Homo sapiens: one gene and its partners. The protein of the gene in region 1 purifies or fractionates together with the protein of each later gene. This does not show direct contact. Each region holds a gene or a part of one and is shown in the gene's direction. Other genes may lie near its edges. The genes, in order: TCTN1, NPTX1, TCTN2 and TUBB8.

Region 1 (4,832 bases):
CACCCAGTCATTCAACAGGAAGGTAAAGGGGAGAAGGTACAGGTTCCATGCTAGTGGTCTCTGTCTTCCAGGTGGTGTGATGAAGGCAGCCGGGGAAGCCAGCTGTTAAGGAGGCAGGATGGCCCTGAGTGGGAGCGCGGGCTGAATCTTGGATACTGATTTTTGCCCCTTGTTAGCAATGTTGCCTCTGGCCAGCAGTTTTATGGCTTTGAGCCTCTGTTTTCATCTGTGAAATGGGAACGCTAGTCAATAGTGAGTGAATGGCCTCATGGGGCATTGAGAGGGTTAAGTGAGGTAACATTTATGTGGCCCTGGGCATGGTGCCTAGTGGTCCATAAATGGGAACCTCTGTGATCCTCATCCTGTTGCTACCATCATTGTGATTGCTGGTGTCCCCCGAGCCCTCTCCAGGCATCTCATGACACGATAGACGAATGTTGAGTCCTGTATCAAAGACTGAGACTGACTTCCGTGCATGTGGCTCTCCCACCCATTGTCCCCTGTTCTACACAGGCAGCCCACACCTGAGAGTTTTCACTGCCACAGTTCCTCACAGAGTTGAATGGAAGTTGACAATCCTACAGATAGGTTCCCGGTCACACATGATGCTTCTGCCCACCTTTTTCTTTTGTCTTAGCAGTCAGCGTGTGGGCCGGCCCTGGCCCAGGGGCGTGCTCTCCATCTTAGCCTGTAATTGCCCAGCTTGTTCTTGTCACGCTTTCTTCAGACCTCTCATTATCCGCTCCGAATATTTCTAGCATGGGCATAACGGGGGTGAGGACTGCTCACTTCTCTGATCCGCCCTCCCACCGAGGCCAGCAGAGACCCGGGATTACTCAGTCCCTGCCGTTCCACTGCGAAGTCTTGACTCAACTCTCCCACCAGAACCAGGCACATCGCTTCTGGCTTCTTGGCCATGGGTGAAGATGTGCAGTTATTACTCCTCCTCAGAAGGGAAGACATGGGTTGGGAGGAGAGGCAGCAGTGCGCACATGGCACCGTCAGGGTCTGTGCTGATCCTGGGTGCTCAGAGGGCCTGCAGCAGCAGGTTTTGTACCAACTCTGCCGGCAACCCAGGTAGAGGCAGGCACGAGCACCTGCTAAACTCAGTTTCCACCAGCTGCATGCTGCATTGTCTCCTAAGAACAGGGTATTCGAGAGGATTGTTCAGTCTGCATGGTTTTTAAAGGCGGTTCCAAGCTAAGGAATTCCATCAGTGCTTTTTTCGCAGCCACCAAATTTAGCAGGCCTGTGAGGTTTTCATATCCTGAAGAGATGTATTTTAAAGCTTTTTTTTTTTAATGAAAAAATGTCAGACACACACAAAAGTAGAATAGTACCATGGAGTCCCCACGTACCCAGCCTGCAGCTTCAACAGTTACCACATTTGCCAACCGGAGAGACTGCCAAGGCAGGAAAAAGCCCTGGAAAGCCCACGGCCCCTTTTTCCCTTGGGTCAGAGGCCTTAGAGCTGGCTGCCAAAGCAGCCAACCAAAGGGGCAGCTCAGCTCCTTCGTGGCACCAGCAGTGTTCCTGATGCAGTTGAAGAGTTGATGTCTTTGACAACATACGGACACTGCCTGGATTACCTAGATGTCACATCTTAATTGCCAATTGATGAAATTAGGTAAATGAAAAGAAAGCACTTAAATTTCCCCTTAGAGCATTTTAACATGACATGCAATCAGGTTTTGTCTGCTAATAATTATTTCTCCCCCTCCATCCCTCCCACCAGTTTCTTTCCTGAAGTCTGTGAGGCCGCTATAAACAGGTAGATGAAGTTAGAGCAGTTATGGCCCTAAATGGTCCACAGTTGGGTATTGGCACTACCGCAGTTTCAGGTGATGTCGGCATTTTTAGAAATAGGAGGAGATGGAAAAATTACGCTTCAGCTGTTAAAAATATTTTTGGGGCATTGAGTTACTTTAAAACACGTATATTCTCTAAGCTGTTTTTATCTGAACTTGTAGAGTCTATTCATTTTCTTGTTCAGAACATTTTGTAATATGTGAAACCTTTTATAATTAAAACTCTGAACTGCAGATTAAGTCTGACTTGCAGTTTTGTAAGATTCTAATGGATTAACAGCATTTTGTTTTGCAGGATTCCTGCCAGCTCCCAGGGGCTTTGGTTATAGAAGTGAAGTGGACTAAATACGGATCCCTGCTGAATCCACAGGCCAAAATAGTCAATGTAACTGCAAATCTAATTTCATCCTCCTTTCCTGAGGTAGGCCTAACCTAGTTTAAAGGCATAGGTTAAGACAGAAGTCTAGACACAACTCAAGTGTGGTAGGTGACAGGTATTACTTTGTGAAAAAGATTATAATTTAAACCATGGGGGTTCATAAAATATTTCAGCAGTCATTCTTAGAAACACTGACGATGGTTCTACTTACATTAGCATTCTGGTTCAGATTGGATCTTTAAAATTCTCATGAAAATTATGATATTCACGTGTTAATCAGACACCCTGGTAAAATTGTTTCTCTCATCCAAGTTAATGGCCAATTAGTGCTCCAGGACCTATCAGATTCATGAACTGACAGTAGTTGGGTGAGGAAGAGAATGAAAAGTGTCTCATTGTTGTCATTCTGGGAGCACACTGGAGGGTGGGCCTTGCATCTCTCTGTTTATTACAGGCCAACTCAGGAAATGAAAGGACGATTCTTATTTCCACTGCGGTTACTTTTGTGGATGTGTCTGCACCTGCAGAGGCAGGCTTCAGAGCTCCACCAGCCATCAATGCCAGGCTGCCCTTTAACTTCTTCTTCCCGTTTGTTTGACGTAAGTGAGGAAACTACGCCCCTCCTCTGAGGTCATCCCCTTTGGAAAGTGTGCACGTGGGGCTAGAAGTCCCTAGGGGATACTGCATTTTATACTTTTTGAGGGTCTCGCTTTGTTGCCCAGGCTGGAGTGCAGTGGTGTGATCATGGCTCACTGCAGCCTTGACCTCCTGGGCTCAAGCAATCCACCCACCTCAGCCTCCTAATAGCTGGGACTACAGGTGCACACCACAACACCTGGCTAATTTTAATATAGTTTGTAGAGATGGGGTCTTGCTGTGTTGACCAGGCTGGTCTCAAACTCCTGGGCTCAGGTGCTCCTCCTGCCTCGGCCTCTGAAAGTGCTGGGATTACAGGTGTGAGCCACCATGCCTAGCCTTATTATACTTCTAACCTTTGAGGTTGCCTCCAAACCAGCACACTGCCCTTCTCCACTCCCTTCCTGCCTTTTTTCCTTTTGGAAATGTTATTCTATCTGACTTTTGAATGGGGAATATGCTTAACACATAGGTCATAGATGATAGAACCCAAAAAGTCTTTGGGGAGATGGTAAAGAACATGAACAGGACTTGAAGCAGCAGAGGCAAGGGGGATTTGGCCAGTTCATTCATCCCCTGCTTTGAGTTATTTATTTTAAAAATACTCAGTTCAGGTTTTTTCCTTTTTGGGTCCGGTTGAAATGAGTACAAAAAAATAGCAAAATATTAGATAAAATCATGCGAGAAGAGCACACAGCCCTTACAAGGGGATCTTCCCCCAAATACCTTGTTAATTATAGTGGAGTCTTGGGTCTAATTGCCATTTCTGCACCAGGCACTGTAGCTAGCTTGCTCTCCGACTGGCAGGCTGGTATGGGTGCCACAGAGGAAAGAATACAGTAGGAGGGTCCAGGGAAAAGAGAGAGTTTATTTTATACAGTAGTTGTTTTATTTTATACAGTAGTTGTACAGTAATTGAGGAAAAATGTTGTCAGGTGGCAGAAAACAATGGAGCCACCTAGAAGCTGGCTGATGCAGCTGGGGCACACAGAGGAGGGGCCTGGGTACCCCTTTTGGGGAAACTGAGACGAAGCTATTTAGAACAGCTTGAAAATAAGAGACTTTTCTAGAATGGGGTGGCAGCTAAAGTAGCTTCTTTTTCTTTCTTTCAGAATGCTCAGATGCATCAGTTCCTTAATATACACGTGAAATTTGAAAACTGTACATTCGGTGAGATTAAATTTTATATACAACTAGCAATTGTCCAGCTTTGTTGCTCATTTTCAATTAAGGCTAAAGTGTTCAACATGAGAAAATGTGATACATTTGATACAGTGTGGGGTGGGAGTGGATGGGCAGCTCTTGGTGGTACTGGACCTTCCACAAGGCTGTGTCCACCCAGAATCCATGCTGGCAGGAGGGAGGCAGAGGTATCAAACCAAACCTCTCACCAAGCGGCCCAGGAGGGGCAGCTGTTCCTCTCGTGACAGCACAGGCCCATGAGACAGTGTCTTCTTTTTGAGGGGAGCTGGTCCGGGTCTAGTTCACTTCACCAAGAAGTCCATGCTGTCGCAATAGTTTGTTAAGTCTTTCAATTTCTTGTTCCTATTGCAAAAGCAGACAAACACTGGAATTTACTTTGAGCCTCGCCAGGGATGTGACAATCAATCATTCAGTGAGCCCCAGGCACAGGACCACAGAGATGAATGAAAGCTACGCTGTTTGTGGCATTCAGTCTGCTGAGGAGACTGCTACAATCAGATAGGCTTCACTGAGCAGCAGTGACAGCAGTGAGAAGACAAACGTGGGGGACCTGGCAGAGCCCTGGGATGTGGGGGTGGGCACAGCTTCAGGGAGGATGTGACGCCTGGGCTGGATCTGAAAGGACAAGGCAGGCTCAGCCCAGGGAAGGGCGCTCTAGGTGCATGAGCAGCGCTCTGCTGCAGGCGGGTGCTGCGGCAGAGGCCAGCTTCCCAGATATCTTTTTTTTTTGAGACAGAGTTTTGCTCTTGTTGCTCAGGCTGGAGTGCAATGGCGCGATCTTGGCTCACCACAACCTCCACCTCCCG
Region 2 (7,030 bases), on another chromosome or scaffold:
CCCTGTGCCTTGGGGCAAAGTACTTGACCTGGGAAGCTACCCGCTCTGCGTCTCCAGAATGGAGACCGGAGCCTGCCCTGGCCACGCATCACAGAGCTTGGTGGGGACCGAACTCAACTCAGACACCGATAAGCACTTCACGCAGGTGCAGATGTCAGGACTGTGTCTTCCGCAGGTCAGAAAGACAACCGCCCTGGAGACAAGTTCCAGCTCACATTCCCACTGCGGACCAACTATATGTATGCCAAGGTGAAGAAGAGCCTGCCAGAGATGTACGCCTTCACTGTCTGCATGTGGCTCAAGTCCAGCGCCACGCCAGGTGTGGGCACGCCCTTCTCCTACGCTGTGCCCGGCCAGGCCAACGAGCTGGTCCTCATTGAGTGGGGCAACAACCCCATGGAGATCCTCATCAATGACAAGGTAGAGCAGCCCCCGGGCTCACAGGGCGGCAGGGCGAGGCCCCAGGGCCCCAGCTCATGTTGCATGCGGAGACAGGGCTATGGTGGCCTCAGATGTTGATGGGGCCCCAAGGAAAGTGTTTGCCAGGTGGGACTGAGGGAGGGGGAGGGTGAAGACCAGGAGAAGTGGTAGGAGCCCCCTCACCTGTACTGGGAGAGCAGGGAGAGCTGGACCTTCCCGGATGCCTCCTGGGGTGGGTACGGGAGATGGCGGAGAACGAGCCATGGGGCCTGGCCCTGCCCGATGATGTGATCTGGACTCCTCCACCAGCTGGCCTTGGAACTGGCTTTGCCCCTCCATAGCAGGGACCCAGAGATGCTCTAGCGGGGTGAGGGGTCCTTAGAGATTTTTCCTGAGTCCAAGTCTATCCCACTCAGCCCCCTAACTCTCGGGAGGAGGACAGGTCTGTGTGATCCCTTGGAACAGGACAGCACAGGCAGCCTTTCCCTCTAGTGAACATTCTCCATCCTCCCCTGTTAGCTATGGAACTAGCTGCCAGCTTTCAAACTGTCTCAAGTCCAGGCCAGCAGTGGTAGTCAATGGCTAAAACCTGGGCTGGGAAGTGGATTCCACGCCCTTGTTCCTGTTGCTCTTCCCCACAAAGGGCTGTGCCATTCTGGGCCCCCTTTCCCCAAGCGGAAAGGGTGTGAAGTTTCTTTCCTCACTGTCTGCTGGACCGTCATCCTCCCGACCTGGAATGGCAGTGGGAGAGTGAAATTCCAGGTTGGAGGCTGGTCTGAGCTTTAAAAGGCATCGTGCTCCATGACATCTCTCAGATCCTCGGCAAAAGCTTGCCGTGTTGTAGAGTGAGAGGGTGTAACAGCTAGAGATGGGACATCGGAAGAGAGAGGAGAGGCCAGCAAGGAGGCTGCACAGATGTCGCACGGAGCCTTGAGAGGCAGCAGTGAACTCAGACACCAGGGACGGCTCTCCCTGGTGTAGACTAGGGCTTGTTGTGTAGACTAGCAAAGAGGGAGGAGGGTGAGTAGGAGTGAAGAGACTGCACACCCACATGGCCCTTGGGGGTTCCCTCGGTAGAGCCTTACATTTCCTGTGTGATTCTGTGCCCCACGCCCAGGCGGGGCTGACAGACGCTGAAGTCTGGGGCAGTAGGTGCTGTGAGAATTCAGTAATAGTTATTGACATTTACTTTGCAAGTAGAGATAGGAACAACTGAGGCAGTGAAGATTATGGCTTCTGGGCTGTACCCCTGTACTCACCAGCTGGCGTCTGTCATTCTCCTTCCCAGGTGGCCAAGTTGCCTTTTGTCATCAATGATGGCAAGTGGCACCACATCTGTGTCACCTGGACCACCCGGGACGGGGTCTGGGAGGCCTACCAGGATGGCACGCAGGGTGGCAGTGGCGAGAACTTGGCGCCCTATCACCCCATCAAGCCCCAGGGCGTGCTGGTGCTGGGCCAGGAGCAGGTACTGTGCTGGATGTGGTGGGGAAGGGGAGAGAGCTTCAGAACCAGAGGCTGGGAAGGGGAAGAGGAGCAAGGAGGGAGGGAGGTAGCCGGAGAAGTGGTTCCCCTGAGAAGCAGCCCGGGGAGCAGGCTGGGCAAGGCCTGTGCCCTGGGTGGACATGCACTTGAACTTCCTGCAGGAGTGAGCTCTGGTTTCAACGCTCTCAGAGCTGCAGCAACACTTTCTTTGGCATGGGAAGGCCAGTTCTGCTTTTAGTGATGCATAATCTAGTTCCCGTGAAGTGGTTTGTCTCCTGTTGGGCACCTGGGAGGAAGACGAAGGGATGGAGAATCGGGGACGTCTGTCCCTGTTGGGCAGCTTTAGCTGGCATGGAGTGATGTCTGGGCAGGGGCCCCAGGCCCAGCTGCTGTGGTTGTCCATGGCTGAGGGACCAGCTGCAGGAGGGGCAGAGTCCAGGTCCCCCCAGGAGAAGCTCCAGGGCAGAGGTGGTCGGTGCCATCCCTTTTCTTGGGCTCCCCCAGAGGAGGGATGGATGTAGGGCTGGAGAGTCAGGGACAGGGAGACGAAACGGCACCTAGGAGTGTCCGTGAGAGTCCGTGATCGGGCAGGCACAGAGGCACTCAGATCCCCGGCCTAGGGATGGGCCCCCAGACCACCTGGCGACCCCTCCACTCTCATCCTCTGTTTTTCTCTGAAGGACACTCTGGGTGGTGGGTTTGATGCCACCCAGGCATTTGTGGGTGAGCTGGCCCACTTCAACATCTGGGACCGCAAGCTGACCCCCGGGGAGGTGTACAACCTGGCCACCTGCAGCACCAAGGCTCTGTCCGGCAATGTCATCGCCTGGGCTGAATCCCACATCGAGATCTACGGAGGGGCCACCAAGTGGACCTTCGAGGCCTGTCGCCAGATCAACTGAGCACGGCAGGCCAGGCTGAGCCCGCCCGCCCTCGCCCCCTGCTTGTGCGGCGATGATCTGTTTTGTGCGTCTCTTCTCTCCCTTTTCCCCAGGAATGAACCGAGGCCGTCGCCCCTGCACACGCACACGCACACAGCCTGGTTTTGTCCTCATGCACACGAAGCAGCCCCTGCTCCCATCTGTCCCTGAGGAAGCCCCACTTCTCTGTAGGAGCCCGGACTCTCTCAGGCATGCCCCATTCACAGCTGAAGTGGGTGCTGCAACGTCTTGAACAAGGCAGAAGTTGGTGAGAGGATCTGTGTGTGCGTGTCTACATGTGTGTGTCTACGTGTGTGCGTGCGTGGCTGGGGGAGGCCTTTTCTTTGAGGACGTACCTCATTTCCTTCTTTCTTCTGGCTTTGGAAAAATCTCATGATGAAAATTCATATTTGCCAACTTTGTTAGCTGCGTGCGTGCTTTGGGGTTGGTGCAACCTCAGTACACGCATTTGTCTTTGTTTGCAAACCTTTCTCAGAGCGACATATCTTTATATTGATGTAATAAATGTCTTTTAGTGGTTTGTCAAAGGCCGGGGGCGGGGGCTCTCTACAGAGAATTTTTATTTTGTAATAGAAGTGAACTGTCTCTGAAGGGTGAAGGCAGGCCGTCCTGGGATGGTACCCTGTGCTCTCCCGTGGAGGAGAGGGGATGGCTGAGGACACTGGCCCTTACCCCAGGGCCAGACAGCATCCATCCCTGCTGTTTGCATCTGAGAGCAGCATGGGGCCTGGGAGGTCGGCCTGTGTGCCCAGCTCAGCTAGCTCTGCCCCAGGACGGCCCTGCCCTCGACCTTCCCACCTCCTCAGATCCTGCAAGGCTGGGGTCTGCCCCTCCCTTCTCACCTCTGGAGCTGTGCTGCACTGCTTCAGCCCAGAGGGCCCTGAGAGAGGAGCGTGCCACCCACAGCCCGGGAAGCCGGGCCCCAGCACCCCTCTCCTTTGGCCTCCGGCAGTGCAGACCAGAGGGGACCTTTTAAGGAAAGAAGCCGTGTTTCGATGAAGACCTGGCCACATGGGGCCACTGGGACTTCAACCCAGCCCATCGGTGGGAAGGTCCTTTTTGGGGGACTTTGACAGCCATATCCCTCCCAGCACACCAGGCGCCAGGTGAGCTGGTTCAGACCCCTCCAGGGGTACTCCAGAGACCTCACGTGTGGAGCCAGGCCTGGCCAGGGCAGGGGCCTGAAACCCACTCCTCCATCTCATGGGGCTCACGGCCTACAGCAGCCCACAAGCTGCCACTGGCCGGCGACACTGACACCTGAGCAGTGTCCAGAACCTTTTTGCCTTTTTTTGTTCCCCGTGAAAAGCAACATGGACATTTCCTTCTAGTCCTTCCAAGGAGGGGAGAGAAGTGTATGTGCATTTGTGTGTGTGTGTGTGTGTTGTGTGTGTGTGTGCGCTAAGTGAGAAAGAGAGCAGGCTCGGGAGGCCCTGCCCAGGGTAGGAGGAGCTTCCTGCTTTGCACCATCTGGTGGTCGCACGCCCTGAGGGCACCCCGACTCTGTCTCCAGGAGTCTCATCAGCAAACCGCTGACAAGTCTTTCTAGAAATTCTACTGCACTGCCTGGCTCAGCTGCAGCTGCAGACATTTCTGCAGGAGGAGCAGGTGTTTCTGTCTTCTGTTCCTTCTAGGGCCACCTGTCCCCTTAAACACAGGTCCACGTTGTGTCAAGAACCTAGTGCATCTGTGTGTGTCTGTCAGTGTCTCTGTGTCAGTGTTCTCGTGGGTGTCTGCACGGTACCCGGCCGCCGTTCTGCAATGCATCACTCCCGCAGAGGGGGGTGCAGATCAGGCGCCGTGCTGCGCGTTGTTGTTCAACAGTGGCTTTTTCTTAGATAATCGTGCTTCCTCAGCGCCCGTCGGGTTGTGGCATCCTTGGATCTGCAGGGATCTTCTCCGTTTGCATGTTCCTCGGGGTGGCGTGTTCCTTGCTCCCTGGGTCCGACATGTGTTCCCGCACCTGCATGGACTGCCCCGGTTCTGTGTTGTGTGCCGAGTGCCGCCCAGTGTTCTGTGACCACCCGTGTAGCTACTGAAAATGGCTGGGTAAGCAAGTCAAGGGTGTTGGAGGAGGTCAAGAGAGAGCTCAGTTTCCCTCTCCCCCTCCCCAAACACACCAAGAAGCATTTTTAACGTGTAGGTTGAGAACAAGCCTAAAGGATTCCCACAGCTGGGAGCCAGCAAGAGAGCTTGGAGTCGCCTCTCTAGACCAGATCTAGCCCCACCCTCACTCCAGCCATCTCGGAGCCCTTGTGTAGGCAACGCCCGGTGCGGGCTGTGTGGGGTGCTCCCCTGCCAGCACCTCCGGCCAGCCCCGCCCCTGCCGATCTACTGGACCGCAGACCACCTTCTGCCCCCGTGGGCCAGGTGGGAGCTGTCCGTTCAGGACCATGAGCCATCCTCTGCCCTGACTAGCGAGGGGCAGAGCACACCCCAGTGCTTACGCCTCCACCCCTGCAGCCTCCTGGCCCGCTCACCTTCCTCACCCCTCCTCTGACCCACCCATGGTGCCAGGGCCGAAGCTGACCTTTAGCTCCCTCCTGCCCCTTGCTAGGGTCTGAGCCAAGCCCCTCGACTCCCTCACTGTGTTGACACTTGGCACTTTGCTGGCCCCGAGAAAGGTCGATGACACAGCCGCAAATCTAATCCACGTAGTTCCCATTTACTCCTTAATCTGATTGATGTTCCCTCTTGCACTGAATAATACATGCCTCTCTCAGGTAAGCCATTTTATAAAACAAGAAGATAAAAAGCACTGTTGAGGCAGTGTTTGCTTTTGCCGAGCTGGTGTCCGACAGCTCCCTGGGTGTCCGGGGTGGGAGAGCTGTTGACAGAAGCTCTCCGGGCCCTCAGGGGCTTAGATCCCACTTGAGTCGTAAGCCTTCTTGCTTTTGATAACACAGTATTATTTCTCTTACTGTAGAAGAAAAAGTTTATTACCAAACAAGAGTATTTTTATGAAAGAAAAGGACAAACCTATAAATTAACTCAACCTATATCTCCCTTGAAAATACTTTCAGGCTCCACCAAAACGTAGAACTGAAAGCATGTATTTTGGAAGAAAGAGATACATTTTGTATGCTTTCTTTTCCTTTTGTAGATTCCCAGTTTATTTTCTAAGACTGCAAAGATCACTTTGTCACCAGCCCTGGGACCTGAGACCAAGGGGGTGTCTTGTGGGCAGTGAGGGGGTGAGGAGAGGCTGGCATGAGGTTCAGTCATTCCAGTGAGCTCCAAAGAGGGGCCACCTGTTCTCAAAAGCATGTTGGGGACCAGGAGGTAAAACTGGCCATTTATGGTGAACCTGTGTCTTGGAGCTGACTTACTAAGTGGAATGAGCCGAGGATTTGAATATCAGTTCTAACCTTGATAGAAGAACCTTGGGTTACATGTGGTTCACATTAAGAGGATAGAATCCTTTGGAATCTTATGGCAACCAAATGTGGCTTGACGAAGTCGTGGTTTCATCTCTTAAACACAGTGTGTAAATTTATTCAACTAACGATGGGAAATGTATTACTTCTGTACACAGTGGACTGAAGTGCAATTTGTTGAAAGGGAACAAGTCATTGAAGAGAAAAAAAAAGCCCAATACTTAGAGTCCCAATTTTGTCTCATTTGCCAAAAAAAAAAAAAAAAAAAAAGCAAACCCCCTATGGTTGATATTGTTATAATGTATATACTGTATAATATGAAAGAGAATCGATGTATCTCACTTTTTCATTATTTGCTAACCAAAGCTGTACATTTTTCATATGATCTGCAGCCTTTTGGGTATCAAATGGGTCAAAACCATGGGACCTGCCACCTCCCATCAGCAATTCTGGAAATGCACTATTTCTACTGGTATTCTTGCTTTTTTTTTTTTTTTCATTTTCTTGCTGAAATGACATGAATTGTTGAGTTTATTTTTACACAGTAAAGAGTGGAGAAAGACTGTGGTCTCCTCAGGATGTCTCTTCTTTTCCGAGGCTTGCCAATGCCACCTCCCCCTGCAGCCACCCCTCTTCCCCAGCCAGGTGCAGGTGACCCTCACCTGCAGGGGGTGTGTGCCTCGCTTGTGCATTGCCCTGTGCCCTTTGACAACCCCACACCGTCTGGTGATGCTGGATGTTGGGTGGAGGGGTCTCCATTTCCCAGGGGCAGCTGACGCAGAGGCAGAGAGTGGCCCAGTGTTTCCC
Region 3 (7,030 bases), about 13 Mb from region 1:
GTATACTTCACTTGAGTCTGTCTTGCTTTTCTAAACTTATTTTTCTTTTGTTTAGTTTTCTTTTAAGAAATTTCATTTTGTACTATTTTATTTAACATTTATTTGATCTTTCTCTACTGTTTGCATCTTTATAAGCTACCTTGAATCCTTTTTGGGAGAAGGTGAAATTTGTTTATGTACATTGATTCTCTCTCTTTTTTTTTTGAGATGGAGTCTAAGTCTGTCACCAGGCTGGAGTGCAGTGTTGTGATCTCGGCTCACTGCAACCTCCACTTCCTGGGCTTAAGCGATTCTCCTGCCTCAGCCTCCCGAGTAGCTGGGACTACAGGCTCACGCTACCACGCCCAGCTAATTTTGTACTTTTAGTAGAGATGGGGTTTCACCATGTTGGCTGGGATGGTCTTGATCTCCTGACCTTGTGATCCGCCTGCCTCGGCCTCCCAAAGTGCTGGGATTACAGGCGTGAGCCACTGTGCTCGGCACGTGCATTGATTGTCATGACTGCATCTTAAGAAGAAAAAAGGAAGGGTGGCCAGACGCAGTGGCTCCCACACTGTAAGTGCTTTGGGAGGCCAAGGCGGGGGAATTTCTTGAGCCCAGGAGTTCGAGACCAACCTGGGCAACACAGCAGATACTGTCTCTATAAAAAATTTTAAAAAGCTGGGCATGATGGTGCCTGCCTGTAGCCCTAGCTACTAGGGAGGCTGAGGTGGGAGGATCGCTTGAGCGTAGGAGTTTGAGGCTGATGAAGTTTACATCATTTCCAGCTTTTTTTAAAATTTATTTTTATTTTCATTTTTTTTAGAGACACGGTCTCACTCTGTTACCCAGGCTGGAGCTAGAGTGCAGGGGCACGATCCTGGCTTGCTGCAGCCTCAACCTTCCTGGTTCAGGCGATCCTCCTGCCACAGCCTCCATAGTAGCTGGGGCTACTGGCGTGCACCACCACACCTGGCTAGTTTTTACATTTTTTGTAGAGACAGGGTCTCACTATGTTAGCCAGGCTGGTTTTGAACTCCTGGGCCCAGGTGATCCTCCCACCATGGCTTCCTGAAGTACTGGGATTACAGGCAGGAGCCACTGCACCTGGTCTGTTCCCAGCTTTTGATGCTACAGCAAAGATCGTTATGCCCGTGTACATGAATCTTTGGACATGAGAAAATGGTTTTGTGTTCATCTCCGTCTCACATGATGTTAGTGTTCTTAAACCAAAAGAGCTTTCAACTAGATGTGCCGATGTAGAGGGCTCTGCAGTGATGAGTGCTACTGCCATGTCCCCTGTCTCCGGTGGCGAACTCTGACATCTCTTGCCTTTATGGCCACGTGGCATGGAGGGAGAAGCGTTCCAGACTTTAGTAGCAAAAGTCTGTTACCTGGAGACTCCTTTACTGCCGCTTCCCTTATTACATCCCTAACTGTGGTCCTCCTGGTGCTTCTGGAAGTTTAGGATGATAAGACAAGTTTTGACAGCTCCTTTCAGCAGACTACTGTGCCCTCAGTGTACTTGCATGGAAAGGCCTCCATGATGAATGAAGTGAAAAAAGCAAGTGCAGATGGCTGCCTACAGTGTGCTATCTTTTGCATAAAGGAGGCAGAAATGAAAACATTTGCATAAAGAAATTCTGGAAGGATGTTGGAGAAGCTAATAATGTGCTACCAAGTTGGAGGATGATGTGGGAACAGGAAAGGGCTGACAGTGAGGAATTTTTTAATATGCTTTTGATTTTTTGGAACCATGCAAATGTGTTACCCACTTAAAAGTTTTAAATTTTTCTATGGCTTAAAATTCAAAACAAAGCCAAAAAAACCGTATTCAATGATGAAAAAAAAAATCCCCCCAAAACAACAGAAGGGATTCATGATAGCTGTACCATTCAAAGCACTGACTTTTTTCCTTTGAGAAATATGCTTGAGGCCAGGTGGTGGCTCATGCCTGTAATCCCAACACTTTTAGAGGCTGAGGTGAGTGGGCCACTTGAGCCTAGGAGTTCAAGACCAGCCTGGGCAACATGGCAAAACCCTGTCTCTACAAACAAATACTACAATTAGCTGTGCGTGGTAGTCGGTGCCTGTAGCCCCAGCTATGAGGGAGGCTGAGGTCGGGGGATCGCTTGAGCCCAGGAGGTGGAGGCTGCAGTGAGCCAGGATTGCTCCATGTACTCCAGCCTGGTCGACAGAGCAAGACCTTGTCTCTAAAAAAAGACCGGGCGCGGTGGCTCACGCCTGTAATCCCAGCACTTTGGGAGGCTGAGGTGGGCGGATCACGAGGTCAGGAGATCGAGACCATTCTGGCTAACACGGTGAAACCCCGTCTCTACTAAAAATACAAAAAATTAGCCGGGTATGGTGGCGGGTGCCTGGAGTCCCAGCTACTCGAGAGGCTGAGGCAGGAGAATGGCGTGAACTCGGGAGGTGGAGCTTGCAGTGAGCCAAGGTCACACCACTGCACTCCAGCCTGGGTGACAGAGCGAGACTCCATCTAAAAAAAAAAAAAAAAAAAAAAAAAGGAAAATATGCTTCAGTATATTTAGGTAATATTTAATATTTTAGAATACCAAACTTAGAAAATTGAACATCTTTGTATATGAGTGATTGAGTTGTCAGCTCTGACCCCATGAAGGCATGAAAAATTTTTTACTCAGCCAGCCAGCGATTAAAACTAGAAAAAGAATGGAAGCACAGACAGGAGGTATGTGTCATACCCAGTAACAATGAAGCCAGCGAACAATGTAGAAAACATAAATCAACACACAAACATCTATTTGTATAACACATAGTAAAACCCTATTCTGAAGTGTCTCGTGGCTGGGGGTGGTGGCTCATGTACTATGCCTGTAATTCCAGCACTTTGGGAGGCCAAGATGGGAGGATCACTCGAGCCCAGGAGTTTGAGACCAGCATGGACAACATAGTGAGACCCTGTCTTTACAGAAAATATGAACGTTACCTGAGCATGATGGTGCACACCTGTGGTCCCAGCTACTTGAGAGGCTGAGGTGGGAGGATCACTTGAGCCCTGGGAGGTTGAGGCTGCAGTGAGCTGTGATTGTGCCATTTCACACTTCAGCCTGGGCAGCAGAGTGAGACCCTGTCTCAAAAAAAAATCAATAAAGTGCCTTGCTTGTGTCACATGGGTTTGATAACACTGAGGGTCAGACCCTTACCCGTGTAACGTGGTCTGCGATGTGGACCTTCTCCTTGTTCCGGATACCATTGATGTATCATTGACCTTCTGCTATGTTACAGGATAGAACAGATCGTTAGTTGTTCTTTAGATACTTCAGCTATTGTGTCATTACAGTTAACTGTTATGTGGGGTTTAAACAAATAGTTCCTGCATGGTTTTCTAACGTGTACCAAATGCAAAAGTAAAATTCAGCAGAATGAAACTTTTATCTGATAAATGATTGGAGAGAAATCCAAAGCATTACTGTCACTGGATTCTGAGTTAGGAGGCTGAAATGTCGTGTAACATATTCCTCTTCAAAGAGGAAAACAAGTTCGGAAACCTGTAATATCCTGAAGAGTTATAAACAACGGGCCCTGCCAATGTTTACCTTTTTAGCATTTCTCCTGAGCTGCTTTCTCTGGCCTTGTCCCATTCACGCCCGCCACCTTCTCCCCTGCACCACAGTGTTCCCCCTATTCATCCACCCCCTCTGTCTTCCACCTACAGCTCTCCAGTAGCCCCTCTTACCTGTACAAACTCTTTCTTTTTTTTTAAAGTATAGATGGGGTTTCTCCATGTTGGTCAGGCTGGTCTCGAACTCCTGACCTCAGGTGATTCCCCCGCCTTGGCCTCCCAAAGTGCTGGGATTACGGGCCTGAGCCACTGTGCCTGGCTACCTGTACAAACTCTTACGTGTGTTTCAGGCTCAGCGCATTCTCTCTCTCTGCAAGTCTTCCTGACGCCCAGCCTAAGCCACGTGCCCTCCCTGGGTTCCCATGGCAGATCCATTTCAGTGTTTACCCTTTATGGTCACATGATCTCTTTACCTGTCTCCTCCCTCTGAGAGTGCGAGCCCCTCAGGGAAGCTGTTGTGTCTCACTGTATCATCCCTGCATAACCCAGCCCCCCATACTCTCGTGGTCAGACCACATTTGTCCCACCTGCACTGTTGGGTACCACAGCCACGAACCATGTCTGGACACTGGACAGTTGAAAGGGGATGGGTCTTAATTGAGATGTGCTGTAACTGTTAAACAGCCACCAGTTTTTGAGGACTTAATGTGAAACAAAGAATGTGGAATAGCTCATTCATAATTTTTACATTGATTGCCTGTTGCAATGATATTATTTTGGATACGTTGGGTTCAGTAAAATATATTAAGTTAATTTTATCTGTTTCTTTTTTGTAGCCTGGGCTACTTTTTGTATTTTTATTAGAGACAGGGTTTCACTATGTTGGCCAGGCTGGTCTTGAACTCCTGACCTCAGGTGATCCACCCACCCTGGCCTCCCAAAGTGCTGGGTTTACAGGTGTGAGCCACCCCGCCCAGCCTAAAATCAGTACATTATGTATATACTAACTTGTGACTCTTAGTCAATTGATTATCTTCTAGATCAACTATGACTTCTTTGGTTCATTGTAACTGGCGTGTTTTCTTATGTTTGGGTTTTTGTTGGAGTGGTAGATGCAGGCCTCATATACTTCGTGGATTCCTTAATGTCAAATATTTGGTAATAATGATTTACAAAACAAGATAATTCAGCTTGCTTTTTTTTTTTTGACACGGAGTCTCACTGTGTCGCCCAGGTTGGAGTATAGTGGCACGATCTCGGCTCACTGCAAGCTCCGCCTCCCGGGTTCACACCATTCTCCTGTCTCAGCCTTCCAAGTAGCTGGGACTACAGGCGCCTGCCACCACGCCCAGCTAACTTTTTGTATTTTTAATAGAGACCGGGTTTCACCGTGTTAGCCAGAATGGTCTCGATCTCCTGACCTCATGATCCACCTGCCTTGGCCTCCCAAAATGCTGGGATTACAGGCGTGAGCCACCGCGCCTGGCCGATAATTCAGCTTTCTTTTGAATGTCAAAAATGTGACTGTGCTTTGTCGGAATGTTTCTTAGCTGAATTTTTCTGTTGTGTGTACTTTTCAGAGAACGTGACTGTCATTCCTAACCAGGTGTATCAGCCCCTTGGCCCTTGTCCTTGTAATTTAACAGCTGGAGCCTGTGATGTTCGCTGCTGCTGTGACCAGGTATGTTCTTTGGTTATTGGGCACAAAAGTTATGCTACCTGTGAGAACACCAGCAGTTCCACCAACAGCTTTTTTCATTTTTTATTTCTTGAGATAGGGTCTTGCTCTGTCACCCAGGCTGGAGTATGGTGATGCAATGATGGCTCACTGCAGCCTCGACCTCCCGGGCTCAAGTGATTCTCTTACCTCAGCCTCCTGAGTAGCTGGGACCACAGGCATGAACCATCACACCCAGCTAATTGTTTTGTATCTTTTGTAGAGATGGGATTTTGCCATGTTGCTCAGGCTGGTCTCAAATTCCTGGGATCAAACAGTCCTCCTACCTTGGCCTCCCAAAATGTTGGGATTACAGGTGTGAGCCACCATGCCTTGCCCCAACAGCTTTTTAAGGGATGGTCTTCCAAAACTGAGATTATGTTTTCTATTGCAAATTGTTTTCAAATTGAGTTTTTTTTTTTTTTTTTTTTTGAGATGGAGTCTCGCTCTGTCGCCCAGCCTGGAGTGCAGTGGCGTGATCTTGGCTCACTGCAAGCTCCGCCTCCCGGGTTCATGCCATTCTCCTGCCTCAGCCTCCTGAGTAGCTGGGACTACAGGCGCCCACCACCACGCCCAGCTAATTTTTTGTATTTTTAGTAGAGACGGGGTTTCACCGTGTTAGCCAGGATGGTCTTGATCTCCTGACCTCGTGATCCGCCCGCCTCGGCCTCCCAAAGTGCGGGGATTACAGGCGTGAGCCACCGCGCCCAGCCCAAATTGAGTATTTTTTTAAATTTAAAAATTTTGGTGGGCGCAGTGGCGCATACCTGTAATCCCAGCACTTTGGGTGGCCAAGGTGGGCGGATCACCTGAGGTCCGGAGTTTGAGACCAGCCTGACCAACATGGAGAAACCCCATCTCTACTAAAAATACAAAATTAGCCAGGCGTGTTGGTGGGCGCCTGTAATCCCAGCTACTCTGGAGGCTGAGGCAGGAGAATCGCTTGAACTAGGGAGGCAGAGGTTGCAGTGAGCCAGAATTGTGCCACTGCACTCCAGCCTGGGCAACAAGAGCGAAACTCCGTTTCAAAAAAAAAAAAAAAATCACACAACTTTTGAGTAAATTTTTTTTTTTTGAGACGGCCTCCTAAAGTGCTGGAATTACAGGTGTAAGCCACCATGCCCGGCCTGACTTTTTTTCTTTTAGGCTTAGAGCAATACAACATATAAACTCTATTTTCTTTCTTTTTTCTTTCTTTTTTTTTTTTTTGAGACAGAGTCTCGCTTTGTTGCCCAGGCTGGAGTGCAGTGACACGATCTCGGGTCACTGCAACCTCCACCTCCTGGATTCAAGTGATTCTTGTGCCTCAGCCTCCCGAGTAACTGGAACTACAGGTGTGCGCCACCACACCTGGCTAATTTTTGTATTTTTAGTAGAGGCGGGGTTTCACCATGTTGGCCAGGCTGGTCTTAAACTCCTGACCTCAGGTGATCTGCCTACCTCGGCCTCCCAAAGTGCTGGGATTACAGGAGTGAGCCACTGCACTGGGCCTAAATTCAGTATTTTCTTATCTGGCATAGTCAGTCTAGTTTTTGGAAGAAGGAAAGAATATCTCTTTGGATAAAATCATGATTGTGAAGATCATACTGGGGGGATGGTTTTAATAATATTTATTCAGAAACCTTTAAGAAATATAAAAAAAGAAAGAATAAGAAAGAACAGGCCTGGCGAAGCAGCTCACGCCTGTAATCCCAGCACTTTGGGAGGCCGATGTGGGTGGATCACTTGAGTTCAGGAGTTGGATACCAGCCTGGGCAACATGGCAAAACCCCATCTCTACAAAAATTAGC
Region 4 (7,303 bases), on another chromosome or scaffold:
AAACACTGTTTTTCTTTTCCACTGAATAACACCACATTTCAAAATGAGGGGAAACATCTTGAAACTAAGAGGTATGGCCTTACTAAATTTGTTTTGGTTTCCATTGTAATTAATTTAATCACATGTGTTCTAGAGTTTGTCCTCAGTCTTCTACTTTAGGCTCATGATCTGTTGAATTTGCTCAGCTCCCTGCTCAACAGCAGGAAATCAGAATTATTTAAAAGCCTCATTGTGGCTGGGAGCAGTGGCTCATGCCTGTAATCCCAGCAATTTGGGAGGCCAAGGTGGGCAGATCACTTGTTGTCAGGGGTTTGAGACCAGCCCGGCCAACAGAGTGAAACCCCATTTCTACTAAAGATACAAAAATTAGCTGGGTGTGGTGATTCATGCCTGTAATCCCAGCTACTTGGGAGGCTGAGGCAGGAGAATCACTTGAACCTGGGAGGCAGACGTTTCAGTAAGGCAAGATGGTGCACTGCACTCCAGCCTGGGCAACAGACCAAGACTCTGTCTCAAAATAATAATAATAAATAAAAATAAAAATCTCATGTTTCAAACAAAATTTCTTTTGCATATCAACTGTGTCAACTTGCATATTAACTATAATCATTTTGTTTACTTTATGTCCAATCCTGAGAAATCTTTGAGTACTAATTTCACTCTTTTCTGCCATTTTGGTAAACATACCAAATGCCATCAAACAAAATGCACAAAATTCCTGAGAAATACATTTTCTCCTTGAGGAGTATACTTGTTGTGTTAGAGGAACTCGTGGTTACCAAGCTTCTAGTTTAATACACATGACTAGAATTCTCTATCTTAATATGAGTAGCTAGGTACTCACAAGGCATCTAGAAGGTTAATACCTATGGTCTGAAAATAGCCACATTTTTTTACTGGCCACAGATTACAATTGCAGAATATTTATGGCCATACAAGACATCTTCCACCAAGCCTGAAAAATGTATAAATGTCCTAGGAGTGCAGCATTTTTTGTTAAAGATAATATTAACGAGCTAGCTTAGGTCAACGGGTTAATGGTCATTGTTAAAACGAATAGCCCCGACTTTAATGAGTACATCTGCACCTTCCAAGTTTAATTATAACTCTTTCTCTTTATAGTTAGAGACACTAACAAAAGACAATGCATTCCTGCTCTTGTTTTCTGAGGATGTCCAACTCTGTAATGGAGTCATTTCTAATAAACTTGCTTCTTTCACTGTGCTCTCTGACTCACCTCAAATTTTTTACTGCACAAGATCTAAGAATCCTACTTTGTGGTCTGTGTCAGGACCCTCTTTTCTAGCAACATCTTTCAGCAACACCATGAAGGGACACCAAGACAAGACCCCCACTCCAAGGAAAACAATCCACATAGAATCATTTAGCTGGCAAGTGGGCTGTGTTTTAGGGTCATGAAGCCATTCAGGTTGGCAAGAATGATTACCCACTATTACTTAAGTGAGAGGCCCTAGGGTATAATATTAGGGTGAGAGACTCAGCCCAAAGTAGAGACCTGGGGGTGTCATACTCAGATTAGAGGCCAAGCCCACAGGGTTAGAGGCCCTGGGGAACATTGAGAAGAATGGATTTGGCTAAACAAGATGTTTGCCACTTTCTCTTTTTGGACTGTCCACCTTGTGCTCTTTGTCCCTCACCTGAGTGCTCTGCATATTGTTGCCTTTCTGCTCACCGCCTCCGTTTTGCAGTAGCCTGGAGGCAGCCCCAGGAAAGAGGCCCCAAACAGTTTAGCTTTTACTTTCCTTAGCGATCCTCTGACTTTTAGCCTTGATGTCTTAGAGCTATTGCTGCTACCACTTTTCTAGTTGGCAAAGATAATAAACTAACATTAGAACAGCACCTACAGGTTTTTGACCCCACACCAAGGGAAGGTGGTCCTAGAAGGTAAAGGGCAGCAGTGGATAATAGGAGAATATTTATGAAAGTGTCAGGACTTATTGCTAGACCGACCCTCCAGACACAACCCTTAAAGCCTGCCAAGCCATAAACCCAGCTACTTAGCTGTCAGAGTCCACAGGTGCTTCTAGTCTTTCTGGCATACAGGCTGTATTAGTCTGTTCTTATGCTGCTAATAAAGACATATCTGAGGCTGGGTAATTTATAAAGAAAAGAGGTTTAATTGACTCACAGTTGCACATGGTCGGAGAGGCCTCACACTCATGGCAGAAGGCAGGTGAGGAACAAAGTTACATCTTCTACATGGCAGCAGGCAAAAGAGCTTGTGTAGGGAAACTCCCCTTTGTAAAATCATCAGCTGTAATCCCAGCACTTTGGGAGTCCAAGGCAGTGGATGACCTGAGGTGAGGAGATTGAGGCCAGCCTGGCCGACATGGTGAAACCTCGTCTATACTAAAAGTAGAAAAATTAGACAGGCATGGTGGTGGGCGCCTGTAATCCCAGCCACTCGGGAGGCTGAGACAGGAATCGCTTGAACCCAGCAGTCAGAGGTTGCACTCCAGCCTGAGCAACAGAGCAAGACTCTGTCTCAAAAATAAATAAATAAATAAACCATCAGATCTCATGAGGCTTATTCACTGTCATGAGAACAGCATGGGAAAGACCCATCCCCTGATTCAATTACCTCCCACTGGGTCCCTCCCACAATATATGGGAATTAGGGGAGCTACAATTCAAGATAAGATTTGACTGGGGACACAGCCAAAGCATGTCACAGGTTATGAAACAAATTGATTCTAGCAGGCCAGACATAAGAGAGATGATTCCCTGGACCATCCCAAGGAAGAGTGGTTAACAGATGCAAGTTGTTTTATGCATCAGGAAAACAGGAGGGCTAAATATGCTATTATTAGCACAAGAGAATCAATCAAGGCACAAGCCTTGCTGGCTTCGACCTCAGCAGCTCAAAAAGCTGAGTTAATTGAACTAACTAGGCCCCTGCAGTTGGGAAAGAATTTAAAAGTTAACATTTACACTGATTCCAAGTATGATTTTTTAGTGCTTCATGCTTATGCTGCAATTTGGAATGGGTGGGGACTCCTGACCCCCAAGGGCTTTTCCATACAACATCGTTCAGATTTTGAGCTTGTTAGAGTGCTGCTTTGCTGCCAAAAAGTGAGTATAATTAATTGCAGAGGACATCAAAAGAGAGACTGACCATGTAAAAGGAAATGCCCTTGTAGATGCCACAGCCAAGGCCCCTGCACTGAAAGGGCCAATGAAGCTTGTGGGCGTGCTGGTCAGCATACATAGAACTGGGCCAGAATACCCTGAAGAAGAACGAAAATGGGCCAGGGATTGCATTTCAGTCCAGGGCCCCTCGGGCTGAATGATGGTAATAAATTACTAATGCCAAGTACCAATCACAGGAGTATAACTCAGCACTTTCATGATTCTTTTCACCCTAGAAGGGATTCTTTGTTTCTGTTAATGTCTCATTTGTTTATAGGGGTAAATCTTTTCAAGACACTAAAACAGGTGACTCAGCCCTGTGAGCTTTGTGCCTGACATGACTCAAATGGCCAGCAATTTTCTCCTTCTCCAGTTAAACCTGTCCAAAATTGAGGAACCTATCCAGGTGAGAACTGGCCACTCTAATTTACCCGGAAGCCTTTCTGCAGGAGATTCAAATATTTGCTAATGCTTACTGACACCTTCACTGGTTAGATCGAGGCATTCCCCACCCCATCTGAAAAATGTTTACCAGAAGAAATAACTCCTCAGTTTGGGTAATCCAAAAGCCTGCAAAGTGACAATGGCCCATCTTTCACAGCAGGCGTATCCCAAAACCTGTCCTCAGCTTTAAGAATCCAATATGACCTTCACTCTGCTGGAGACCACAGTCCTCTGGAAAGGTGAAAGGGCTAACCCTACTCTAAAGAAGACTCCAGCTAAATCAGAGGCCTGACTGTCTCTAACACCCATAGCTTATTGTGGGTTAGAACTGCTCCAAAGTAAAACGTATAATTGAGTCCTGTTGAGTTCACATGTGGAAGGCCTTTCCTAACCACAGATCTCCTAATAGATGAAAAGACTCATCAATTACAAAAATATGTCATCAATCTAGGACAGGTGCAAAGGCACTCCGTGCATATGGAAACAAGAGTCTTCCCCTCCCACATGGGAGGAAAATTCAGTTTCAGCTCAGCTAGGGATTTAGTCTTACTAAAGACGCGGGAGGAAGTTCTCCAGCGAGCAGCTTTCCCCAACGTGGAAAGGACCACGCAAGGACACCTGAGCTTTCCAACAGATGTTCAGCGCCAGGGGATCCACAGGTGGGTGCACCTGTGTGGAAGTAAAGCTGTTGCTTATTCTGGGAGCCGAATCCGAGGCGGAGGGAGGTGGGCGCGGGGCTATTTAAACGTTGGCGGAGGGCGGGCTGGGTCGCTGCGCGTCTGCTCCTCCTTCTCACGTTTCTCCTGCCGTCCTAATCCCGCCTTGGCCATGAGGGAGATCGTGCTCACGCAGATCGGGCAGTGCGGGAATCAGATCGGCGCCAAGGTTGGCAGCCGGGGCTCTGAGGGCCTAGCCCGGGCCTGCCGGGTGGCCGGGGAAGGTGTTGGCAGTGGCGGGGGCGGTGCCCATGCATTGCGGCCCCTGGGCTCCCTGCCGGGGACGGTGGAACCGGGTGGCTGGCGAGGCGGCCGGGGTGGACCCCAGGGACAGGGCGGCCTAGGGATGGGGGTGCGGATGAGGGTGGGGGTGGGAGAGCGGCTGGGGCGCCTCCCTGACTCAGCCCCGGCCTGTCTGTCTCCTCCCGTCTCTTGCAGTTCTGGGAGGTGATCTCTGATGAACATGCCATCGACTCCGCTGGCACCTACCACGGGGACAGCCACCTGCAGCTGGAGCGCATCAACGTGTACTACAACGAGGCCAGCGGTGAGACCCCCGTCCTTCCCCCACCGCCCTCCTGGGAACGCGGCCCTCCCCTCGCTCATGCCCTCCCGCCCCACGCAGGTGGCAGGTACGTGCCCCGCGCTGTGCTCGTGGATCTGGAGCCGGGCACCATGGACTCTGTGCGCTCGGGGCCCTTCGGGCAGGTCTTCAGGCCAGACAACTTCATCTTCGGTGAGCTGCGGGCGAGGACTGGGGTGCGGCTCCTTAGCCAGGGCAGCTCAAAATCCAGGAGTGTGCTAAGGTCATCCTCTGGGAACTGTGGAGCTAGGGCCCCTGAACACCCTCCTATCCTCCGAGTCGAGTCGCTCAATCTGCCTCTCCTAAATGGGCTTCGGGAGGAAGGCCCTGGTGTCTCCTCAAGGTGAGGAGTTACTGATGTAAACTCCCTGCAAGAACCTGAGCTGGGGCCGTGGCTACTGCCTTTCCTGAGAATGGGCAGGAGCCACCTGCAGCGAGGTCTGTGAACCCGTCTCAGGTTTGACTCCTGTCTTAATTCCTAACAGGGGAAGCTGCTGTCCTGTAACTCTGGGGGAGGGGGTTTCATCTGCTCCACCTGCAGGGCGAACGGTGCTCTCACCTCACGTGTGACGCTTGGCTCTTTCTGCATTATGGTGGTGACCACTGATGACCGTATACCTGGCCGTCGAGTGACCGGCTGTGCTGTCTTACAGGTCAGTGTGGGGCCGGAAACAACTGGGCCAAGGGACACTACACCGAAGGCGCGGAGCTGATGGAGTCAGTGATGGACGTTGTCAGAAAGGAGGCTGAGAGCTGTGACTGCCTGCAGGGTTTCCAGCTGACCCACTCCCTGGGTGGGGGGACTGGGTCTGGGATGGGTACCCTTCTGCTCAGTAAGATCCGGGAGGAGTACCCAGACAGGATCATAAACACATTCAGCATCCTGCCCTCGCCCAAGGTGTCGGACACCGTGGTGGAGCCCTACAACGCCACCCTCTCAGTCCACCAGCTCATAGAAAACGCAGATGAGACCTTTTGCATAGATAACGAAGCTCTGTATGACATATGTTCCAAGACCCTAAAACTGCCCACACCCACCTATGGTGACCTGAACCACCTGGTGTCTGCTACCATGAGTGGGGTCACCACGTGCCTGCGCTTCCCGGGCCAGCTGAATGCTGACCTGCGGAAGCTGGCCGTGAACATGGTCCCGTTTCCCCGGCTGCATTTCTTCATGCCCGGCTTTGCCCCACTGACCAGCCGGGGCAGCCAGCAGTACCGGGCCTTGACTGTGGCTGAGCTTACCCAGCAGATGTTTGATGCTAAGAACATGATGGCTGCCTGTGACCCCCGTCACGGCCGCTACCTAACGGCGGCTGCCATTTTCAGGGGTCGCATGCCCATGAGGGAGGTGGATGAACAAATGTTCAACATTCAAGATAAGAACAGCAGTTACTTTGCTGACTGGCTCCCCAACAACGTAAAAACAGCCGTCTGTGACATCCCACCCCGGGGGCTAAAAATGTCAGCCACCTTCATTGGGAATAATACGGCCATCCAGGAACTCTTCAAGCGTGTCTCAGAGCAGTTTACAGCAATGTTCAGGCGCAAGGCCTTCCTCCACTGGTACACGGGCGAGGGCATGGATGAGATGGAATTCACCGAGGCCGAGAGCAACATGAACGACCTGGTGTCTGAATATCAGCAATATCAGGATGCCACGGCCGAGGAGGAGGAGGATGAGGAGTATGCCGAGGAGGAGGTGGCCTAGAACTCTCCTTTTCTAGGTAAAGGGGGGAAGCAGTGTGGATTCTTTACTGTGTTCTGACAGCCATGTGTCACTATACGCTTGTTAATTTGTGTCTTCACATCTCCTGCTGCGTTTTAAAGCATTTTTATAGTATGCGGTTTTGACTAATAAAGTATTCTCACAGCATCTGGTTTTGCCTCCATCTTCTTTCTATGGGCCCTCTGGCTACTGCTGCCAGATGCGCATAGTTGTCCTGCAAGGCGGAAGCTGTCTGGGTTCATCACATGCCCAGGAACAAGCATTCCAGTGGCTCCAGGAGGGGTCGGTATGGGCTGTGGACATGGCAGGCAGGCTTCACATGAACTTGGGGATGCCCTGGGCCTTGGGCAGTGACGTGGTGGAAAACCTGTTGCTGAAGGCAAGCCTTGGCTTATCCCATATACCAAACTTCTAGGGGACCAGCTGGCCATGTTTCTGGAACGTTAAAAGGGGTCAGTGACCCTGGTGGACAATGTCCCCAGAGTCCCATCTCAGGGTAGGAATGTGGTCAGAGCTGGCTCTGAACCAGCAATGAAGGGTGGGCAAGTGGGACCCCAGGCACTCCATCATCACGATGGCCTGGGTGTGTTTGTGTGGCCTCATTCTCTTAATGAGGTGGGCATGGGATGTCTGGCAGGGACTAGGCAGGAATCAAGCCCAGTGTCTGCTAACATGCACTGA

Evidence for each region.
Region 2: the proteins of TCTN1 (region 1) and NPTX1 purify together in Homo sapiens (affinity purification with mass spectrometry; 2 studies listed by BioGRID and IntAct, with this or other methods). This does not show direct contact.
Region 3: the proteins of TCTN1 (region 1) and TCTN2 purify together in Homo sapiens (affinity purification with mass spectrometry; 3 studies listed by BioGRID and IntAct, with this or other methods). This does not show direct contact.
Region 4: the proteins of TCTN1 (region 1) and TUBB8 purify together in Homo sapiens (affinity purification with mass spectrometry; 2 studies listed by BioGRID and IntAct, with this or other methods). This does not show direct contact.

What each region holds. Positions count from the first base shown.
Region 1 is NC_000012.12:110,645,108-110,649,939, forward strand, and holds the end of TCTN1 (tectonic-1 isoform 1 precursor), read left to right. Parts: coding exon 1-22; coding exon of another isoform or gene 23-36; intron 37-2,088; coding exon 2,089-2,229; intron 2,230-2,641; coding exon 2,642-2,785; 3' UTR 2,786-2,786; intron 2,787-3,578; exon of another isoform or gene 3,579-3,935; 3' UTR 3,936-4,302; downstream 4,303-4,832. Other genes in the region: HVCN1 (voltage-gated hydrogen channel 1), read right to left, coding at 4,303-4,368. UniProt on the Homo sapiens protein: Component of the tectonic-like complex, a complex localized at the transition zone of primary cilia and acting as a barrier that prevents diffusion of transmembrane proteins between the cilia and plasma membranes.
Region 2 is NC_000017.11:80,466,590-80,473,619, reverse strand, and holds the end of NPTX1 (neuronal pentraxin-1 precursor), read left to right. Parts: intron 1-175; coding exon 176-420; intron 421-1,708; coding exon 1,709-1,888; intron 1,889-2,585; coding exon 2,586-2,807; 3' UTR 2,808-6,786; downstream 6,787-7,030. UniProt on the Homo sapiens protein: May be involved in mediating uptake of synaptic material during synapse remodeling or in mediating the synaptic clustering of AMPA glutamate receptors at a subset of excitatory synapses.
Region 3 is NC_000012.12:123,674,086-123,681,115, forward strand, and holds part of TCTN2 (tectonic-2 isoform 1 precursor), read left to right. Parts: intron 1-5,103; coding exon 5,104-5,204; intron 5,205-7,030.
Region 4 is NC_000010.11:46,358-53,660, reverse strand, and holds TUBB8 (tubulin beta-8 chain), read left to right. Parts: upstream 1-4,364; 5' UTR 4,365-4,422; coding exon 4,423-4,479; intron 4,480-4,748; coding exon 4,749-4,857; intron 4,858-4,935; coding exon 4,936-5,046; intron 5,047-5,202; exon of another isoform or gene 5,203-5,236; intron 5,237-5,378; coding exon of another isoform or gene 5,379-5,546; coding exon 5,547-6,604; 3' UTR 6,605-6,773; downstream 6,774-7,303. UniProt on the Homo sapiens protein: Tubulin is the major constituent of microtubules, a cylinder consisting of laterally associated linear protofilaments composed of alpha- and beta-tubulin heterodimers.